2 separate regions of the Homo sapiens genome follow, and region 2 is linked to region 1. Evidence: fine-mapped expression QTL. A gene starts in region 1. The other region holds a variant in brackets. All regions are shown on one strand. Distances are from middle to middle.

Region 1 (2,913 bases):
AAACTTCATATAGTCACCCTCACAACTCTTTTGGTAATTTGAATTTTTGACCACTCTTCTGGAACTTGTTTGAAGTCCCCCTAAGGTTTGGCTTGGATCTTGAGAATGATGATCCCATACACTGATATGGTTTGAGAGTGTTTATTATATAATGAGGCTCTGTGGGGGAAAGCAGGGTATACTTTTCCAGCTGGTCCAAAAGTGGCTTCAGAGAACTGGGATAGGTGACTGGCTTGGGGTGTCATGATTGCTAAAGGGTAGGGCTGGGGCGGGGATACCCACTACCCATACTGGAAACTTAGTTACAATTCACACCTAGCATGTATATTTTTATATTTTTTGTATGTATATATATTTTTACATTTTTTTCCTACATTGCCTCCAAATTCTATGTTTAATACATTTCTTCCCTGTTTTGCTCTGGTGAAAACTTTAGGGGACAAATAAATGAGTGCTGTTTGGAGACAAAATTTTGTGACATGGGACTGGGCATTGTGGCGTGTGCCTGTAGTCCCAGCTACTTGGGAGGCTGAGATGGGAGGATCACTTGATGCCAGGAGGTCGAGGCTGCAGTCAGTGAGCTGTCTGCACTTCAGCCTGAAAGACAGAGGGAGACCATCTCAAAAAAAAAAAAAAAAAAAAAAAAAAAGTTGTGACCTGAGTATGTCCATAAGACAATGGCAGGTATACACTAGGATTAATATAAATATGAAAAAAAAAAAAAAACTTGGCCGGGTGCGGTGGCTCACGCCTGTAATCCCAACATTTTGGGAGGCCAAGGCAGGCGGATCACGAGGTCAGGAGTTCAAGACCAGCCTGGCCAACATGGAGAAACCCTGTCTCTATTAAAAGTACAAAAAAGTAGCCCGGTGTGGTGGTGGGCGCCTGTAATCCCAGCTACTCGGGAGACTGAGGCAGGAGAATCGCTTGAACCCAGGCGGCGGAGGTTGCAGTGAGCCGAGATCGCGCCACTTCACTCCAGCCTGGGCAAAAGAACGAAACTCTGTCTCCAAAAAAAAAAAAAAAAAAAAAAGGAAATTGCACATTCCGCCCTGGCAGGGTTTTGCATTTCATATTTTAATTTGCATCCCCTTCATAAACAATTCAAGGACTTTAAAATTCCGGAAACTAGTGTTTATTATTCATTTATATTTATTTATTTTAATTATTTATTTCCAATTTGTTATTTATGATTATGTATTTATTAGGCGCAAGGTTTCTCTCTCATGCCCAGGCGGGAGTGCAGCGCACGACCTCGGCTCACTGCAGCCTCCACCTCATGGGCTCAAGCGATCCTCCCACCTCAGCATCCGGGTAGCTAGGACCACATGCGAGCGCCCCTACAGCCGATTTAAAATTAATTTTAATAGCAGGAATTTTCCTGGATCTAATCATCAACAAACTTTCCCTCTGCCGGGACACAATCTATTTCCAGATAGCTGAGTTCTTCCAGTCTCCACGGCAGGTCTAGCCTCCAAAACGAGACGAGCTGGGAGCGAGGCGGAGGGAAGCGCAGGCTCCGCCCAATCCCACCCGGGCCTGGCCTCGCCTCGCCTCTCAGCTGCGCGCGCAGTTTCCTGGAGACCCGGAAGCAGATTACGTGGAGTGACGGTCATGCTGCGGCGTGTGAGTTTCCCTTTGTTTAGATTAAATCTGGGATGCTGAGTCCCCTCGCGCTTCTGTACCCGGCATCTCAGGGGTCACACAGACCTTGAAATCCCCGCATCGCTCCCTCCACCCCGACTAAACTCAGACGTTCTAATGAGAGTCTGGCGGTCGCTTCCCTGAGTGTTAAAATCGCTCGGAGGCTGGTCCTGTCCCCGGTCTTTCACCACAGGGCCATGTAGACAGCTCCTGTCGCGGAGTTTGCCTGCTTCAAATCCTTCAGTGACCCCTAGACACGGCCCGCGCTGCGTAAAGTTCTCACCCGCGAGATGGATCCACGTCTTTCCGGTCCCCCAAGCCTCGCCCTCTTTTCACAGGCCTGCCCCCTTTTCTGTGCCTTAAATGAGAGGAAATCGATCTGATGTTTACTGCTGATTGTGATGTTTCAGCCTCCATTGGGCTTTTGCTAACACCTAAATAAATATTTAGTGGACAAAATTAGGTTAGTGCAAAAGTAATGGCAAACCGCGATCACTTTTGCACCAACCTAATATTTATGGGCCGGGGCTGGAATTCCATCTTCTCCGGAGGCCCAGGCTGGAGAATTCCTTGAGCACAGGAGTTTGAGACCACTCTGGACAACATAGTGAGACCCCCATCTCAATTTTTGAAACATATGTTTCAGTACGGGTATTTAATAGAGATTGGAATTCTCGTTTCTATGTTTTTACATGGTCTGACTTTTTGAAATAGTTTGAAATAATGTTTATAAACTGAATTGAGCACAGTTTATACATTTTTATTGTTGCAAACATGCTGAAATGCACATTTGCAAAAACAACGACAGCCAGGCACAGTGGTGCACGCTTGTCATTCGAGTTACTCGGAGAGGGTGTCATTTGAGGCCAGGAATTCAAGGCTGTAGTGTGCCATGAATAAGCCACTGCACTGCAACCTGGACACATTAAAAAACGAACAAAGACAAATATCTAAAAAAGAGGTTATTGACAGACAACTCTTTCAGTTGTCACATATATGTTTACTAGAGTATATGTGTGTGAATGTATATATGTATATGAATAAGTGTGTACATGTGATGTGTGTGGATGAGTGCACAGATGAGCAAGTCTATTGTTTTTATCAAAGGCGCATCATCAGTTTATATACGTCTTATATCTTTTAACAGTTGAAATTACATCTTATATATTTTCATGACCTTAAAATTGTTCTACACTGTTATGATAGTGAGTCTATGGCTGTAAGGATAGTAACCTGTTATGGGGATACATGTGCGACAGTTTCTTGATT
Region 2 (2,913 bases), 21 kb after region 1:
AGGTACAATGGAGGCACAGGTATTGGATAAATAACGCCCGTTGCAAATGGGAGAAATTGGCCAAAACAGGTCACAGGCCCCATGCCAGTCTGAAATCCAGCAGGGCAGTCAAAGCTCCAAAATGATCTCTTTTGACTCCGTGTCTCACATCCAGGTCACACTTATGCAAGAGGTTGGTTCCAGTGGTCTTGCAGGGAACCCATGTCTGCCCCTGTGACTTTGCAGGGTACAGCTCCTCTCCTGGCTGCTTTCACAGGCTGGTGTTGTGTCTGCTACTTTTCCAGGCACATGGTGCAAGCTGTCGGTGAATCTACCATTCTGGGGTCTATAGGAGGGTGGCCCTTTTCTCACGGCTGCACTAGGCGAGTAGTGAGTAGTCTGTGTGGGGGCTCCAACCCCACATTTTACTTCTGCACTGCTCTAGCAGAGGTTCTCCATGAGGGCTCCGCCCCTGCAGCTCACCTCTGCTCCAGTTCCAATAAAGTTCCTCATCTCCATCTGAGACCACCTTCAGCCTGGACTTTTTGGTCAGAACCATTCAACAACCATTTTCTAGGAAGCTCCAAACTTTCCCACGTCTTCCTGTCTTCTTTTGAGCCCTCCAAACTGTTCCAGCCTTTGCCTGTTACCCAGTTCAAAATTTGCTTCCACATTTTGAGGTATCCTTATAGCAGCACCCCACTCTATACCATTACCAATTTACTGTATTAGTCTGTTCTCACGCTGCTAATAAAGAAATACCCGAGACTGGGTAATTTATGAAGACAAAGAGGTTTAATGGACACAGTTCCATGGGGTCGTGTCCCCCGTGCTTCTGCCACAGGGCCATATAGACAGCTCTTATCGCGGAGTTTTCCTGCCTCAAATCCTTCAGTGTCCCCTGCACTGGCCCGCACCTTTTTTAAAGTCCTCACCGCAAGGTTGATTCCCGCCCTGGGAGCTTCCCATCTGCTCCGCTCCCTCGTCAGCTCCTGGAGCGCAGCGACGCAGCCCCAGTCCCAGGGAGGCCGTGAACTCTTCCTGGTCCTGGGATCCTGCAGACCCTGCCCCTCTCCTGACTTTCTCCTGCCTTTTTCCTCCTTGATCGGGGGCCCTTCTGCTCCCCAGGCCTCCCCTTCTCCTGATATCGAGTGTGGGGACGTGACTTCTATCTCAGGACGTTAAGGTTTCTCTTGTCCCAAATTCCATCCCACAGGAAATGGGCTCTTGAGGTGGGGATCTGACTGCAGTCCCCTCCCTATGAATGTGTGGAGGAGAGGAAATAGAAAAATGGTGAAATGGGAAAGAAGAATGAAGGAGACCCATAAACAGACGGCAGCTGGGTGCGATGGCTCACGCCTGTAATTCCAGCACTTTGGGAGGCTGAGG[C/T]GGGCAGATCACCTGAGGTCAGGAGTTTTGAGACCAGCCTGACCAACATGGAGAAACCCTGTCTCTAAAAAATACAAAATTAGCCAGGCATGGTGGCGAATGCCTGTAATCCCAGCTACTCTGGAGACTGAGGCAGGAGAATCGCTTTTACCCGGGAGGCGGAGGTTGCGGTGAGCCAAGATCGCACCATTGCACTCCAGCCTGGGCGACGAGCAAAACTCCATCTCAAAAAACAAAAAACAAAACAAAACAGATGGCAAAGTAGATGGTGGATGAGGGATTTGCAGAGACAGTGCATGAAGATGCTGAGAAAGGAGCAGGGGGAGAAAAGCAACTAGAGAAATTTAGAGAAAAACTGGGTTTCTAGAGAGATAAAGTTCAGCAAGATAGGGAGAGGGGCAGAAAAGGGGAGGCTCCTCAGATGGAGAGTTGGGGAGAGAAGGAGGGATTTGGAGCCAGGGCAGACAGAGCAGCATGGTGCTGGGAGAGCAAGAGGGGCAGCCAGTGATAAGGAGAGCACAGGGAGAACCACAGCCTGGGGAGAACTGGGATCTGGGGATGCCAGAGAGGGGACAGGTGGATATAGCAGGGAAGAGGGGATTTAACAGGGGAAGCTAGGGGGCAGCAGAGACGGGGGGAAGAAAGAGGCAGAACTATATGAAAATTGGAGACAAATATTGGGCAGAAAGAAGAATAAGAGGTGAAAGAAGTGAGAAAGGAGCAGAACAAGTGGAAGAGAAGGAATAGAGGGAAGAGCAGGAGAAGGAAGAAGGGCTTGAAATGAGGAGAATCCTAGGGGAAAAATAAAGAGAAAAAAAAAGCTAGGAAAAGAAGGTGAGAATGAGAGGTAGGTAGAGAAACACACAGTAATGAGGAAAGAGGGGGACACTCAATCCAGATGAATGATGAATTGATTGGATATTATGATTAATTTCTCTATAATAAACATCACATTTGTTTAAAATATACAGATGAAGATGAGAATTGGAAAACTGTCTATAAGGCATGTGCATTTCCTAATTCTTGGTATCAGAGGTTAGCTTCCATTTGCTGTCCTTATTCTGCCAGACGGCAGGCAGTGACTTGACTCATTCAGGTATGGGTCACTATCTTCACTTCTGGGATGGGGTAGGGTGTGTGAGTGTATAAGATAGGAGGAAAAACCAAAGTGTTTTTTCTACTCACAATCAACACAATAGTGAATGCTCAACACAGAATGCCTCATCTCCGGTCATCAAAATGTGTGGGGATTACTTCCCACCAACAAGCTATTTTTCATCAGATAAAAACTGGGTGTTCTCTAATTGAACTCAATTTGACACCATTTATAGGGAGTTAGCATTAGATCTCACAGGAGGCTGAGGGCTCAGTTGCACAAAACTGCCCCCAGAATTTGCTATTGCTAGAGTGATTTACACAACTTGGAGAAACAATTTACTGAGGTGTACCATTTGTTATAAAGGATGTTACACAGGACACAGATCAACAGCCAGATGGAAGAGCATTCCTAATAAATTAATGGAAACAGAAGTATGTTTTGGAAAC

Evidence for each region. PIP is the estimated chance that this variant, and not a neighbour inherited with it, causes the effect.
Region 2: its variant is fine-mapped to the expression of ZNF880 in caudate (GTEx, PIP above 0.99). The same link has a PIP of 0.9 or more in amygdala, anterior cingulate cortex, hypothalamus, nasal epithelium and visceral fat.

The regions. Positions count from the first base shown.
Region 1 is chr19:52,368,352-52,371,264 of GRCh38, forward strand. It overlaps ZNF880 (zinc finger protein 880), which reads left to right and starts at 1,572. Exons shown (of 4, transcript NM_001145434.2): 1 at 1,572-1,626. The coding sequence starts at 1,615. RefSeq lists enhancers at 1,254-1,553, 1,564-1,673, 1,874-2,013.
Region 2 is chr19:52,389,336-52,392,248 of GRCh38, forward strand. All of the region lies in intron 6 of ZNF528-AS1 (ZNF528 antisense RNA 1), which reads right to left. It also overlaps a transcript of ZNF880 not described here. Among named protein-coding and RNA genes, the nearest start is that of ZNF528-AS1, 7.0 kb to the right of the region's middle. The variant C/T (reference allele first, on the strand shown) is at 1,369.